Linked DNA regions of Homo sapiens: region 2 is linked to region 1. A link means that fine-mapping ties the variant in region 1 to the expression of a gene that starts in the linked region. Tissue or cell type: whole blood. Region 1 holds a variant in brackets; the other region holds the start of a gene. All regions are shown on one strand. Distances are from middle to middle.

What was found. PIP is the estimated chance that this variant, and not a neighbour inherited with it, causes the effect.
Region 2: H3-3A starts here. The variant in region 1 is fine-mapped to the expression of H3-3A in whole blood (INTERVAL, PIP 0.99).

Annotation. Positions count from the first base shown.
Region 1 is chr1:226,033,289-226,041,392 of GRCh38, forward strand. No RefSeq gene overlaps it. Among named protein-coding and RNA genes, the nearest start is that of H3-3A-DT, 25 kb to the right of the region's middle. The variant C/CA (reference allele first, on the strand shown) is at 3,505.
Region 2 is chr1:226,057,691-226,065,794 of GRCh38, forward strand. H3-3A (H3.3 histone A) reads left to right here and starts at 5,026. Exons shown (of 4, transcript NM_002107.7): 1 at 5,026-5,121; 2 at 6,639-6,789; 3 at 7,966-8,104. The coding sequence starts at 6,662. It overlaps H3-3A-DT (H3-3A divergent transcript), which reads right to left and starts at 4,805. Exons shown (of 2, transcript NR_185887.1): 1 at 3,300-4,805. RefSeq lists silencers at 4,145-4,994, 4,581-4,746, 5,365-5,434 and an enhancer at 6,628-6,697.

The DNA.
Region 1 (8,104 bases):
CTCACTGAAACCTCTGCCTCCCGTGTTCAAGCGATTCTCCTGCCTCAGCCTCCTGAGTAGCTGAGATTACAGGCATGTGCCACCACACCCCGCTAATTTTTGTATTTTTAGTACAGACGGGGTTTCACCATGTTGGTCAGGCTGGTCTCGAACTCCTGACTTGATGATCTGCCCGCCTAGGCCTCTCAAAGTGCTGGGATTACAGGCGTGAGCTGTCGTGCCCGGCCCCATCTTAATAAGTGTTAGTGTCCAATTCAGTGATATTAAACACATTCACAATGTTGTGCAGTCATCACCATCATCCATCTCTATAACACTTTTCATCCTGTAAAACTGAACCGTATACCTTAAACCAAATAACTCCCCATTCCCTCCTTCCCCTACCCCCTAGCAATCACTCTACTTTCTGTTTCTAGATTCAACTAGTTTGTTTAAGAGGTGATTGCGGGAAGACTAGAGTGGGGAAGTAAGGCAGGAAAGGGAAGGAAGCCAAGAAAAGGAACATTATTAAGCAAGTTGCTTCTGTGTAACTGCAGCTGGGGTTCAGTCCTACTGGGGACCCTGGGAGACAGTGCAGAACATGCCTCTGAGCTTTCCTACCCAAGAGGTGAGGAAGATGGGGAGCCTCCGGTTTCCATCCATCATTGGCTGAGGCCTGCTCGTAGGGTCAGTAACCCTTCAGCATGTCTGTGTCTCAGGTGGAAGGAAAACTGTCAGGTGAAGAATCCCAGGTGCTTGCAGTAGGACAGCCACTGGAATGTACTGGAATGCTGAATGACAAGGGGATATGGATCCCAAAAGAATTTCTGAGCTCCCTTTAAGGAACAGACTCTAAAGTGGTCCCCATGATCTCCACCTCCTAGTAACTCACACCTTTGTATAATCATATAATTCCCTCCCTTTGAGTGTGGGTGGGTCCAGTGACTGCTTCTTTTTTTTTCTTGTTTTTTTCTTTCTTTTTTTTTTTTTTTTTTTTTTTTTTTTTTTAAAGAGATGGGGTCTCACTGTGTTGCCTTGGCTAGAGTGCAGTTGCTGTTCACAGATGCAATTATAGCCCACTACAGCCTCTAACTCCTGGGCTCAAGCAATCCTTTTGCCTCAGCCTCCCAATCTAAGACTACTTCTAACCAACAGAATATGGCAAAGGTGATGGGCTGTTAGTCTGTGATTAGATTACATTATATACAATTCTACCCCACTAGCTCTGTTCCTCCCTTAGTGGCTTTGAGGAAGCAAGCTGCTATTTTGTAAGAGGACCTATCAAGAGGTCCACATGGCCAGGAACTGTGAGCAGCCTCATAGAGCTAAGGGCAGCTAACAGTCAGCAAAAATCCAGGCCCTTGGTCTTACAGCAGCAAGGAACCAAATTCTGCCAACAACCCGAATGAGTTTGGCAGCAGATCTGTCACTAGTCAGGCCTCCAGATGGAGCTGAGCCACGGCCGACACCATGATGACAGCCTTGCGGCCTGCACTATGCCCAGGCCCCTGACTCACAGGGTGTGGGATAATAAAGGGAAGTTGTTTTAAACTAGTGCATTTGTCGTAATACGTTATGCAGCATAGGAAACAAATATGCTCCCTTATCCTATAAGCCTCCAATCTGAGCAAGATGGCCTCAGCCCTTCTGCTTTTTCTTCTGATAACCTTTACTCCATGTCCGCTAATGAGCAATTCTTTTTTATCTTATTTTATTTTATTTATTTTATTTTTTTAAGACAGGGTCTCTGTCTGTTGCCCAGGCTGGAGTGCACTGGCATGATCATAGCTCACTGCAGCCTCGACCCTGGCTCAAGTGATCGTCCAACCACAGCTTCCCGAGTAGCTGGCACCACAGGTGTGTGCCACCACACCCGGATTTTTATAGGTTTTTTTCTTTTCTTTCTTTGTTTTTTTTTTTGTAGATGCGGGGTCTCACTATGTTCCCCAGGCTGGTTATGAACTCCTGGCCTCAAACGATCCACCTCGGCCTCCCGAAGTGTTGGGATTACAGGTGTGAACCACCACGCCCGGCAGCAATTCTTAGGGTTTAAATAAACGTATTGCTTTTTTCTCTTATTAGGAAAGTAAGACATATTCATTGTAAGGCATATAATATATATAAGCAAAAAAAGGAAAAAAAACAACCAATGCTGTTCATCTAACTTTTTGTTAGGTAAGTTCAGACTTTCTTCTGGAGAGTTCTCTCTGTCTTTAAGTTCTATATTCTCTTTGATCCCTACTATGAAAGAACTTTTACCCAAATATAAATGTATAATTAGAAAAGATTGTATTTATATGGCTTGTTCTTGACCTTTTCCAAAGAGGTGTACACTGAAAATGCCCATATAATTGAGAAAGGCATTATTCCCAGGGGGAAAATTTCCATGGACATAGTAAAGCCATTATCCAGCTTTGTTCAGAGGGATTCTCATCCTACCTGAGGAGGAAAGAGGTGCCAAGCATTTGGGACCATTGAGTCCAAACTTCTTTTGAGTAAATAAAGGGCTTTTGCATTTAGCATGTAGGTGCTGAATTCAGCAAAGGAGGCACAGCAGAGACAGAGGAGCTCTCTGTATCTTCCTTCACCTTTTTACTTCCCTCTTTGCCTGTGGGCAGCAGTGAAAGAAGAATCTCCTGCTGGCTCTAAGACTCCCAGGGAATAGCCCCAAGGTTTTTCCCTCTTCCTTTCTCACTTTCCTTCTTTCTGCTGCTCACAGAGCAGTTCCAATTCTACCAATTCTACCATGATGTAGTCTCCATGAGGCCTCTTGCCAATAGGAAAAACTCCTCCCCTTCCTACTGCACTTGTGCTCCTTTCTGGAGCATCACTGGGTGTTTTCAGTTCACCCAAGTGTTCATTTAACAAACACCAGGTAGGCCGGGTGCAGTGGCTCATGCCTGTAATCCCAGCACTTTGGGAGACGGAGGCGGGTGGATCACAAAGTCAGGAGTTCAAGACTAGTCTGGCCAACATGGTGAAACCCCGTGTCTACTAAAAATACAAAATTTATCTGGGTGTGGTGGCTCAATTTTTTTGAGACGGAGTTTCACTGTTGTTGCCCAGGCTGGAGTGCAGTGGCACGATCTCGGCTCACTGCAACCTCCGCCTCTCGGGTTCAAGTGATTCTCCTGCCTCAGCCTCCCAAATAGCTAGGATTACAGGCATGTGCCACTGAGCCCAGCTAATTTTTGTATTTTTAGTAGAGACAGGTTTCACCATGTTGGCCAGGCTGGTCTCGAACTCCTGACCTCAAGTGATCCACCCACCTTGGCCTCCCAAAGTGCTGGGAATAGAGGTGTGAGCCACTGTGCCAGGCCAATTTACATGCAATTATAAGAGACAGTACAATCCTGTCTCTATAAAAAAGAAAATAATTAGCCAAGCATGGTGGTACATGCCTGTAGCCCTAGCTACTTGGGAGGCTGAGATAGGAAGATCACTTGAGCCTGGGAGGTTGAGGCTTCAGTGGGCTGTGATCACACCACTGCACTCCAGTTTGGGTGACAGAGCAAGACCCTATCT[C/CA]AAAAAAAAAAAAAAAAAAAAGGGAGATAATATAGAATCACAATGTCTTACAATTTCACACTTACTAGGATGGCTGTAATTAAAAAAAAAAAAAAACCAGACAATAACAAATGTTGGTAAGGATGTGGAGAAATCAGACCCCTCAGACATTGCTTATGGAAATGCAAAACAGTGCCACCCCTTTGAAAAAAGCTTGGTGATTCCTTAGAAAGTTAAACACAGAGGGCCGGGCACGATGGCTCACGCCTGTAATCCCAGCACTTTGGGAGGCCAAGGCAGGTGGATCACGACGTCAGGAGTTCGAGACCAGCCTGACCAACACGGTGAAACCCCGTCTCTACTAAAAATACAAAAATTAGCTGGGCGTGGTGGCGTGCACCTGTAATCCCAGCTACTCAGGCCTCAGGCTGAGGCAGGAGAATCGCTTGAACCCGGGAGGCAGAGGTTGTAGTGAGCCGAGATCACGCCACTGCACTCCAGCCTGGGCGACAGAGTGAGACTCCATCTCAAAAAAAAAAAAAAAAGAAAAAGAAAGTTAAACATACAGTTACTATATGACTCCGCAATTCCACTCCTAGGTATAAATACCTAAGAGAATTAAAAACACATGTTCACACAAAAACTAGTACATGAATGTCCACAGCAGCATTATTCATAGTAGCCAAGAAGTAGAAACAACCCAAATGTCCATCAACTTATGAATATGATAAATAAAATGCAGAAGTAGACCCATACAATGAAGTATTATTTGGCTGTAAAAAGAAATGAAGTGCAGACACATTTTATAAAATATTAATAGATGGATTTTGAAAACCTTGTGCTAAGTGACAGAAGCCAGACACAAGGCCACATATTGTATGATTCCATTAATATGAAATATCTAGAGTAGGCAAATCCAGAGACAGAAAGTAGATTAGTGGCTGCCAGGAGCTGGGGGAGAGGGGAACAGGGAGTAACTAATAATGGATACAGGGTTTCTTTTGGGGGTGATGAAGAGGTTCTAAAATTAGATAGTGCTGAAGTTGCACAACTTTGTAAATATGTTAAAAACCACTAAATTTTACACATTAAAAAGGTAAATATTACGTGAATTTTATCTCAATAAAATTTATTGAAAAAAGAAATATGCAGAGAGATCCTGCGTACCCTTCACCCATTTCCCCCCAATGGTAACATCTTATATAACTATTGTACAATATCACAGCCAGGAAACTGACATTGATAGAACCCTTCGCCATTACTCAGATGTCATCAATTTTTAGTTTTTTAGTATTTAGTTCTTTTTTTTTTTGAGATGGAGTCTCACTCTGCTGCCCATGCTGGAGTGCAGTGGCGCGATCTCGGCTCACTGCAACCTCCACCTCCAGGGTTCAAGTGATTCTCCAGCCTCAGTCTCCTGCGTAGCTGGGATTACAGGCATGTGCCATCACACTCAGCTAATTTTAGTATTTTTAGTAGAGATGGGGTTTCACCATGTTGGCCAGGCTGGTCTTGAACTTCTGACCTCAAGTGATATGCCTGCCTCAGCCTCCCAAAGTGCTGGGATTACAGGCATGAGCCACCATACCCAGCCACTCATGTGTGTGTATTTGGTTCTAAGCAAGTTTACATGTGTGGATTCACGTGACCACCACCAAACTCAAGATGAAGAACAGTTCCACCACACAGACCCCTTATGCTACCTTTTTATGGCCACAGTCACTCTTCCCTTCTACCTGACCCCTGATCTGTTTTCTATCTCTATACATTTATTGTTTCAAGAATATTATCTAAAACGAATCACACAGTATGCAACTTGAGATTGGCTTTTTTCACTCAGCAAAATTCTCTGGAGATCCATCCAGATCGTCATGTGTATCAATAATTCCTTCCCTTTTATTGCTGAGTAGTATTCCATGGTATGAATGTACCATAGTTTATTGAACCTTCCACCATTAAAGGACATTTCAGTTGTTTCCAGTTTGGGGCAATTAGGAATAAAGCTATTGTGAACAGTTATGACCAGGAACATAAAAACTTTCATTTCTCTGGGTAGATGCCCAGGAGTGTAATTGCTGCATCATATGGCAGGTGCATATTTAATATTGTAAGAAGCAGTCATATTCTTTGCTAGAGTGGCCATGCCATTTTATTTTCCTACTGGCAATATGTGAGTGATCAAAGTTCTCTCTATCCTCACCAGCATTTAATGGTGTCATTATTTTTTATTTCAGTCATTCGGATCATACATATACTTTTTACAAGTTAGACAAACATGCACCATACTCTTGACAGCGGTGGTTTCTAGTGTATGTATGGGTTAATTCAATGGAAGACTCTCCTTTATATATTATATACTTTTGTAGTTTTTTGTTTTTGTTTTTGTTTTTTTTTGACAGAGTCTTACTCTGTCACCCAGGCTGGAGTGCAGTGGCACGATCTCGGCTCATTGCAAGCTCCACCTCCCGGGTTCACGCCATTCTCCTGCCTCAGCCTCCCGAGTAGCTGGGACTACAGGCACCCGCCACCACGCCCAGCTAATTTTTTGTATTTTTAGTAGAGACGGGGTTTCACCGTGTTAGCCAGGATGGTCTCAATCTCCTGACCTCGTGATCCGCCCACCTTGGCCTCCCAAAGTGCTGGGATTACAGGTGTGAACCACTGCGCCTTTTTTTTTTTTTTTTTTTTTGCGACAGAGTCTTGCTCTGTCACCCAGAGTGGAGTGCAGTGGCACAATTCGGCTCACTGCAACCTCCGCCTCCCGGATTCAAGCGATTCTCCTGCCTCAGCTCCCGAGTAGCTGGGATTACAGGCATCTGCCACCATGCCTGGCTAATATTTTTAGTAGAGACGGGGTTTCACCATGTTGGCCAGGCTGGTCTCGAACTCCTGACCTCTGGTGATCCGCCTGCCTAGGCCTCCCAAAGTGCTAGGGGCATGAGCCACCACGACCGGCCTGTAGTGTTCAAATTTTACATAACTTAATGTTGTACTTGTAATCTAAAACGCAATAAGGATTTTAAAAAGTTGGCCAGGCACAGTGGCTCACGCCTGTAATCCCAGCACTTTGGGAGGCTGAGGCAGGCGGATCACCTGAGGTCAGGAGTTTGAGACCAGTCTGGTCAACATGGTGAAACCCCGTCTCTACTAAAAGAACAAAAATTAGCCAGGCATGGTGGTGCATGCCTGTAATCCCAGCTACTCGGGAGGCTGAGGCAGGAGAATCACTTGAACCTGGGAGATGGAGGTTGCAGTGAGCCGAGATGGCACCATTGCACTCCAGCCTGGGCGACAGTGAGATTTCGTCTCCAGAAAAAAAAAAATTGTTCTTCTGCATCAATTTTTTTTTTTTTTGAAGACAGAGTCTCACCCTATTGCCCAGGCTGGAGTGCAGTGGTGCAATGTCAGCTCACTGCAACCTCCGCCTCCTGGGTTAAATTAATTCTCCCTGCCTCATTCTCCTGAGTAGCTGGGATTACAGGCACCCGCCACCACACTCAGCTAATTTTTGTATTTTTAGTAGAGATGGGGTTTGGCCATAATCCCAGGAGAATTGCTTGATCCTGGGAGGCGGAGGTTGCAGTGAGCTGAGATCGTGCCATGGCACTCCAGCCTAAGCGACAGAGCAAGACTCCGTCTCAATAAATAAATAAATAAATAAATAAATAAATAAATAAATAAAGTTAATAGGTAGTAAGGAAGTGGAGACGATTATTAGAAACTATTCTGTAGATTAATTGTCCCTGGAAGGAAGGGGAGATGTGGGTCAGCAGAGGAGAGAAGACAGCATTCTAACAGAGAAGGGGAGGCTGAGCACACAGGACGGGGAAGCCATGCGCTGGCTATGCTCCGTGTACCCAAGACCCTCACTTCTCCACAACTGCTCCGTGTTCCAGGAGACTCCATCAGGCAGCCTCCACTGCCCTCCAGCTTCCAGGAGCCTCTGCACCACGGATGGGCAGGAGAGAGAGCGGCAAGGCTTGTTGCTGTCAAATACAACTCTACTCCACCTCACTCCCAGGCCCCCACTCTCCACAGAGCCCACTTGTGCCAGGCCCCAGGGTCACCGTTTACCCCCCTTGTGGGTCCTTGCTATTGCCTGTGCCCACACACCCTGTCCTGTTCTGCTTACACCCTGTGGGTGGGCTCTTCATCGAACCCTGCTTAAACTCTGACGGTGCTCGGCAGCCCAAGTTTTGAGTGCACCACCTCTCTTCTGCCAGGACCCTGATGGGTGCATCTAACGAGGCAACCCCCAAAACAGTCAGGAGGGACCTAGATCAAGAGCTAAAGCAAGGGCAGACCCAGTTCTCTGAGACAGGAGGAAGGCAGCAGAATGGTCTGACAAAGATGTCTGCAGGCAGGAGGGTCTGCAGAATTCATACCTAATTCCCTCAGTTTTCTTGGTGAACCAGGGGGTGGTGACTTGTGCTAGGCACCCAAACTAGAGACCAATCACTCCTTTTCACAAACATTTTATAAAGAATAGTCTTGTTCTCTTCTAATGAAGAAAGAGTTTTCTCTGCTCTTTTAGTTAGGCTGCTGAGCACTGCTGGGTTTTATTATCACGAAGCTAATGAGGGGTTAAGGATGTTGACTAGAGCCAGACTGTCTAGTTTGA
Region 2 (8,104 bases), 24 kb after region 1:
CCTCAGGTGATCTGCCTGTTTTGGCGTCCCAAAAGTGCTGGGATTACAGGCGCAGTGGCCCACACCTGTAATCCCAGCACTTTGGGAGGCTGAGGCAGGCGGATCATCTGAGGTTGAGTTCCAGGCCAGCCTGACCAACATGGAGAAACCCGGTCTCTACTAATAACACAAAATTAGCCAGAACTGGTGGTGCATGTCTGTAATCCCAGCTGCTCAGGAGGCTGAGGCAGGAGAATCGCTTGAACTCGGGAGGTAGAGGTTGCAGTGAGCCGAGATCGAGCCACTGCACTCCAGCCTGGGCAACAAGAGCAAAACTCTTGTCTCAAAAAAAAAAAAAATAAACAAACAAACAAATAAAAAAGTGCTGGGATTACAGGCTTGAGCTACCATGCCAAGCCCAAATTTAAAAATCAAGTTCCATATGAGTGGCTCCAAATACCCTCCACTAATCCTCGGTGCAACTTACAAATATGATCATTTTCTTCTTTTTTTTTTTGACATGGAGTTTCGCTCTTGTTGCCCAGGCTGGAGTGCAGTGGTGTGATCTCAGCTCACTGCAACCTCCACCTCCCGGGTTCAAGTGATTCTCCTGCCTCAGGCCTCCCAAGTAGCTGGGATTACAAGTGCCCACGACCATGCCTGGCTAATTTTTTATATTTTTAGTAGAGACGGGGTTTCATTATATTGGCCAGGTTGGTCTCGAACTCCTGACCTCAGGTGATTCACCAACCTCGGCCTCCCAAAGTGCAGGGATTAGAGGTGTGAGCCACTGCACCTGGCCAAATATGATCATTTTCTAAGAAGAAAATGACATGGGAAAGGTTAGAAAGTTTGCCTTAGAAGATGGTGAGACAGTCCTATCAAAAGCTGGTGGAAGAGAATTCAAGCTTCAGAAAGAACAGATGCAATGATCCTAAGGCAGAGGAGGACTTGATGGACCAGGGGTGGCTAGTCTGCAGCACAGTGCGGAGGGGAAAGAGGGGTAATGCCAGGGCCCACACATGTGGAATTTAACCAAGAGCAGTGGGAGGCCACTGAATGGATTAAGCAAGAATGCAACCTAATCTGATTTATATTCTATAATCTAATCTGTGTCTGCTTGGTAGCAAATAAAATACAGAGGTGCAGGAGTGGAAAGAGAAAGGTCATACAGAAAGTTACTGTTGAAGGGCAGGTAAGAGATGAGAAGAGGAGTAGGTCATTCTGATAAGCATTTCAGAGCAAGACCAATAGACTGGCTATCGGGGTGAAAGAAAAAGAGGCTCAAGGAGGCTGTCTGTACTTTTTGGTTTGAGTTGAGTAAATGGTAGTGCTATTTACTGGACAAGACTGAGGGAAAGGACAGTTTTAGACAGTGTGGATCCAAAGCCTCAGGATAAATGATCCATATTTTTCTTTTGTTTGAGACGGAGTCTTGCTCTGTCGCCCAGACTGGAGTGCAGTGGCGCAGTCTCTGCTCACTGCAACCTCCGCCTCCTGGGGTTCAAGCAATTCTCCTACCTCAGCCTCCCAAGTAGCTGGGACTACAGGCGTGAGCCACCACGCCTGGCTAATTTTTGTATTTTTAGTAGAGATAGGGTTTCGCCATGTTGGCCAAGGTGGTCTCCAACTCCTGACCTCAAGTGATCAGCCCACCTCAGCCTCCCAAAGTGCTGGGATTACAAGTGTGAGCCACCACGCCTGGCCAATCCATATTTTTCAACAAAGTACAAATACAGAGAAAGAATCTGTAGATTATAAGAGATTTAAGGGGCACATCAATCATCTATTTGACTCCTATGATACATACTAAATTATCTACAGATGAAATAATGCAGGCTGGGATTTGCTTCAAAATAATTCAAATCGGTGAGGTAGAAGTGAGTAGAGTATAGAGGGAACCCAATATTGGTCATGAGTCAGTAATTTCTAAAGATGGGTACAAGGGGTTCATTGTTTTATTCTATTTTTCTACATGATAATTTCCATGTAACTGGATGAGATCACCTAATAAAAAGGTACAGCAAATGATCAGGGACAGGAGAAAAAACAGACAAGACCACCATTACCTCAGAGGTTATATTCTTTGGGGAGGAACTGGACAATAAGCAAGTGAACAAATGATAGATGTAAATCAATGTGATAAAAAGGTGATGTGAAATCAATGTGATAAAGTGTGCATGGAGATAGCATTACAGTGACCAGAAGCATCTCCATGAGGCAGTAATCTTTGCAGTTGATTGACAGGAGCCAAGCAGATATGAATAGCGTTGCTTTTAAAATCCTTTCCATTCTACTTTTCTACTTATAAACAAATCTAAATTCATGGCCATAAGTACTCTATTCTAAGGAAAATATTTTAACTTAAAACCTTTTGCTCCCATCCTCCCCATTTCTTTTTTAACTGCAAATGTTGAGGCCATTATTAGCCCAAGAATTCTATTTTTTTTTTTTTCTGAGATGGAGTCTTACTGTTGCCCAGGCTGAAGTGCAGTGGCAAAATTTCGGCTCACTGCAACCTCCACCTCCCAAATTCAAGCAATCCTCCCACTTCAGCCTCCCAAGTAGCTAGGATTACAGACGTGTGCCACCATGACGGCTAATTTTTATTTTTAGTAGAGACAGGGTTTCTCCAGGTTGGCCAGGTTGGTCTCAAACTCCTGATCTCAAGTGATCCACCCACCTCGGCCTCCCAAAGCGCTGGGATTACAGATGTGAGCCATTGTGCTGGGCCTGAGTTCTAGTAAAGCCAATTCAGGACTGACCCGTAGGGCCCTGTGAGAATCCCTTCTTGCTCTGGCACCTCTCCTTCCCCATTATCTAGACTCTACAGTTCACCTCTCTCATTAGCTATAGTTTTTGCCAATCTTGGGGCTCCAAAGTCCCTCTTTCTTTACCCCCTCCTGGTGCTACTTCCCTGTGCAAAGCAGTGCTTCCAGAGATCATAAGCCCCATGAGGGCAGGAACACTGCTTGTGTTATTCACTGCTGCATTCCCAGCACCCCTGAATTGTGCTGAGCAGAGTTGGCACTCAATAAATATTCATTCAGTGAGAAAACTTCCTGAAGCCACTAGGAGGGTAACCAGTCACCTCTCCAGGTGCTTAAATACTTGAACCTACTAGAAAGAATTTGTGGCCTAACTTCATAGAGATAAATATTATTATTCCCATTTCACAAATGGACAGACAGCTGAGTTAGTTCAAATCATCTAAGATCATAATTACTCTACCTAAAATGGTCTGACCCTTGGTTAGAAATATTTTTTAAAGCCAAGAAGTAGAAGCTATTGAAAAATCCAGCATACAAAGAAAACATTACCCATGTCATTTAACATTTCTTGAAGATATGATGCATTTAACTAATGCAGAACAGCCTTCCTGGATAAATCCAACAATAAATATTTCGGTTTCCTGAAAACAAAACAAAAAACAAGCAAAATAACTCATCTTGGCTTGAATTATAGGAAATTCTTTGCTGGCAGCTCGGTCCAAGCTGATTGCATATGTGCTTTTAGGATAGGATTAGAGATTGCATGTGTTCTGCACAGCAACCATGGACACTTAACATTCATGAAATAATAATGAAACGGGAGGCCTGGATTTTTGTCTGTTTGTTTCTCCTAGGTCTCTTCCTCACTTAAGTGACCTTGGACAAATCCATTTCTTCCCTCGTATCTGATTTCCATGTATCTGTTTCGGGATAATGTTTATCACTAAGCCGCTTTGTGAGATCTTCAGATTACAAATAATTACTGCCCTTCATTTATGAAATTTTCCTCCTTCACTACCCTACGGGATATTTGCATGACCCTTCCATTGAAAACCTTTACACACAGTTGTGAAGCGTCAATACCATCTAGGGACGGTTCAGAGGTTCCAAAGCCAATCAACTGACAAGTCGTGAGGATAACTTGGGCCATGAAAAGTCCGTTTCCTATGCTACTGAGAATTGGAAAACAGGTATATGTACTAATTCCCAAACCACGTTTGCCTTCTTTCTGCCGTTTTCAGCCTCTTCTAAACTATGCAGAAGCTGCGGACATTTGACTATCTATATTCGGCAATTCCTTTCCAAAGCAATCCTACCGAAAACAGATCACACGGCCCCCACGGGCGGGCAGGACAAGCCACCAGGCCCTGGTGCAGGAGCTGCGCGCTCCACACATTGTTTAGAGGCCGACGCGACACAGCCATCTTGCGTCGGGGGCCCGGGCCCGGGAGGAGAGCGAGCCCCGTCCCCTGATCCCGGAGGCCAACACCGGCGAGGGGCTGCCCTGCACGCAGGCGGCCGGCCCAGGAGTCTTAGCGGATCAAGTTGTCTACGGCGGACTCGGGCCGGTCCCGCAGGACCCGGCCGCACTTGGCCGAGCGCGCAGGCGGGAAGGAGGCCGTCGGTCCGCCCCTCCCGCTGCCGCAGCGGCCAGGTCCGACAGCGGGCGCGGGACGCTGGATTCCTATTTGCCAGCTTCCTGCTGGGGAGCGTTTTCCAATGGGGCGCGGCGACCCGGCCGACCGCGTCCTCCTCCCCCACTGCCGCCCGGGTCTCCTCGGGGGCGCGCGCCGGGGCCCGCGCGGGGGCAGCCCCTCCCTCCCCTCCCCGCCGCGGCCCGAGACGCCCGCAGGCCGGGCGTTCACCCGCCGCGCCTCCGCCCGCCTTCCCCTCCCCCCACTTCCCTCCGGGCGCCCCAAACCCGGGCTTCGGGGGTTCGACGCCGTGCGCACACGGAGCGGGATGGGAGTGCAGGGCCGGGGGCGGGGGCTGGCCGGGTGCGGGCGGCAGTCTCGGCGGGAGCCGGCGGCCCCTCAGCGTGTCTTTTGTGTTTGTACACACACGGCGCGAGGCGGCCTGGAGGAGGGAGCGGGCGGCGCGCGGGGGAGGGGCGAGCGCGCGCCAGCGAACGGGCGCGCGGGGGGAAGGGCGGGGGCGGGGCGCGAGAGGAGCTATGGGGGCGGGGCCGAGCCTTCCCTCCATTGTGTGTGATTGGCTGGCGCGCGGCGCGGGGGCGGGGCGGCGTGTGTTGGGGGATAGCCTCGGTGTCAGCCATCTTTCAATTGTGTTCGCAGCCGCCGCCGCGCCGCCGTCGCTCTCCAACGCCAGCGCCGCCTCTCGCTCGCCGAGCTCCAGCCGAAGGAGAAGGGGGGTAAGTTTCCCCGTCTGCCCGCTTCCCCGGAACCGAGCCCCGCTTGCCGTCAGCCCCGAGCCGGGCCCTGGCGGTGCCGGGAGGGGACCCATAGCCCCTCCGGCTTAGCCCACAAACTTTTTGGCCCAGAAATGGAGGTGAGGAGCGAGTTTCCCTGTTCCCTCTGGCGGCGGCGGCTCCCCCGTCTCTCGCCGCCTCAGCCCAACAGCAGCAACCGCCGCGGCGCCGAGCCTGCTCTCCCTCCTCCTCCCCGCGCCCCTGGCTCCTCTTTCTTCGGTGAAATCCCGCCCGCCGCCCCTTCCCCGGACCCCAAACCTTCACCATGACCCGCGCGGGCCTCTTAACTACCGCCCCCGGGCCCCAGCCCCCAGTTTTCGAGCGGGAAAGGGGTGGAAATCGCCGCCGCTTCGCACCCTGGGGTAACTCGCTTTTTGCTGCCTCCCCACAGTTGTTGCTAAGCTTCACCATCTTGTCTCTCTTCTCTGGTCACCGACCATATTTTTTCCCCCGTTTCTCTCTTCCCCATTTCAAAAAAGCAAGAATTTTTAAAAGAGGGACGTTTTTTTCCCTTTTTTGGAGAGGCGGAAACTTGATGCATTTGAAATGCAAAAAAAACTTTTGCATTTTGGAGGGCGGCACGTGGCAGGGGATAGGGGTATTTTCGAGCGATTTGGTGTTTTGTCTCTTTGGAACGGAATCGGATACGTTTTGCGATTGTTTCCATTTTGTTCTGGTCGGGGAGCCGAGTTGGTTCCTGCTCGAGGCGCTGGGAGCGAGGCGGGCAGGTTGGGGGACCCTGTGCCGAGGGACCCGAAGGAGGCAAAACCAAAAGTTTATGTGGTGCTTGGGGTGGACCGGTCGGCGGATGTCGTGCGTTAATTAAAGCCTGGGTGCGGGGCACTTTTTATTTCACTGCGAAGCCTGTGAGGACTGGACGCGAGGACGGGGCTTTGTAGAATGCTCGCTGGTGGTAGCTGTTGTTCCTCTCTTGTTTTTTCGAGACGCCTTTTTGTCAACATAACTGTAAAGATGCAAAACCAAGAATATTTTCAGATATTTACAGCAATCCATCAACAGTCAGACGAAGGGGGGGCAGCCAAAGTGGGGGGGAGTAAGACCTTTTTTTTGCTGTAATTTGACTCGACCTTCCAGTGGTTTGTGCCTTTTTTCTTTTGACTTGTTTGTGGATGGAATGTTTACAGACATTTCTAATTACTGCTTTAATTAAATAAATTGGATCAAAGGCCGTTCGAGGTATTTTTGTTTTGCCGTTTGTCGCTCAGAATTGGCATTTTGAGAGGTGATTGATACTGCTAACAATTTTCTAGTACTCTAGTTTGTTTCAAGAAGAGATTTTGGGTAGACGTAATCTTCACCCTTTCAAATTATATAACAATACGAACATTATTTTTTATACTGATCATAATTTCCAGATTTGGGGAGGGGGTGATCGTGGCAGGAAAAGTTGTATGTTTGGTAGTTGCATATGGTGATTTTTGATTTTTCAATGCTGGTAGGTAAGTAAGGAGGTCTCTGTACCATGGCTCGTACAAAGCAGACTGCCCGCAAATCGACCGGTGGTAAAGCACCCAGGAAGCAACTGGCTACAAAAGCCGCTCGCAAGAGTGCGCCCTCTACTGGAGGGGTGAAGAAACCTCATCGTTACAGGTATTAAAAAACAGGAAAAAAATGGGACAAAGTCTCTCTTGTATGTATCCACATAATTTAACAAAAAGATGGATAACAGGAAAACTTTTTGCTTTAGAGAAACTTTTTTTTTTCATTTGAACACTTAACTACTGCTTAAATAAATGTACTGTATGATCATTTATATATAAAGTTAAGTATTAGGTTTTATTGAAAACGTTTAACTTTGAAGCCATAATCTTACCTGGAGGTCTAAGGAGACCTCGTATATCACTGATAATGTTAATGGGATATATTGACATTTTAGTTAACTATTAGTAATTCTTTAAAAATAGTTAAGTGTTGCTTTCTTGAATACACTTTTGAGGTTATCTTTCCTAGTTTTTGGCAAAATAATAATATAATCGAGATTGGGTGTTTTATAAAGTTCCTACCCCCTCATTTACTTGATTAGCTTATTTCCTTCTGTATTAGCTCTTTTGATTGTGAACTACCTGAGCCACTGTGTTGTTAAGGGCATCTGCCATTAGAGGGCAGAAGTTGCCTAGACTTAGCCTCCGCAAATATTACGATTAACCTAAAATAAAAGCTCATACAGTGGAAGAAATAAGTCAGAATGAGAGGTAAATTTCTTGCTGACAATTACTTAGTAAAAAAAACTTTTCCACGTGGAAGGAACACTGCACAATCGGGTGTATTCAAATTTAATAGTTGATGAGGGGTGAACTGTAGTCAGGGTAGAGGTATTCTGGGAAATAGAACTTGAATGCCACAAGCAGATTTTTAAATGAAGTTCATTGGGTTGTGTTGGTCATCTTTAAGGGCTCTTAAGATAATAGAGGGTGTAGGGAAGGAGAGTGGTGCTAAATTGAGGGGAGCCAACTTCTTCATTAGCCTGACAGCTAATACCTTCCCAAGGTTTATATACATGAATAACTTTTTAAAATGAAAATAAATAGGGCTTTGATGAATTTCTTGCTAAGAATGCATTTTAATTTCATGCTTTTTGCTTTAAAGGTATTGTTACTAGATTTGAATGTTCACATCTTAAGTTGATCAGTGAAATTTGATACTGAAGCTGAAGAATTGTTGGGTGGCTTATTTTTTGAAAGATTACTGCATTTCTTTGAAGCTGCCCACTTACCTTTTTGTGCTAGTTATGTTTTTGGTAACAGTTTCTTTATTAATTTTTTAAAGGCCTGGTACTGTGGCGCTCCGTGAAATTAGACGTTATCAGAAGTCCACTGAACTTCTGATTCGCAAACTTCCCTTCCAGCGTCTGGTGCGAGAAATTGCTCAGGACTTTAAAACAGATCTGCGCTTCCAGAGCGCAGCT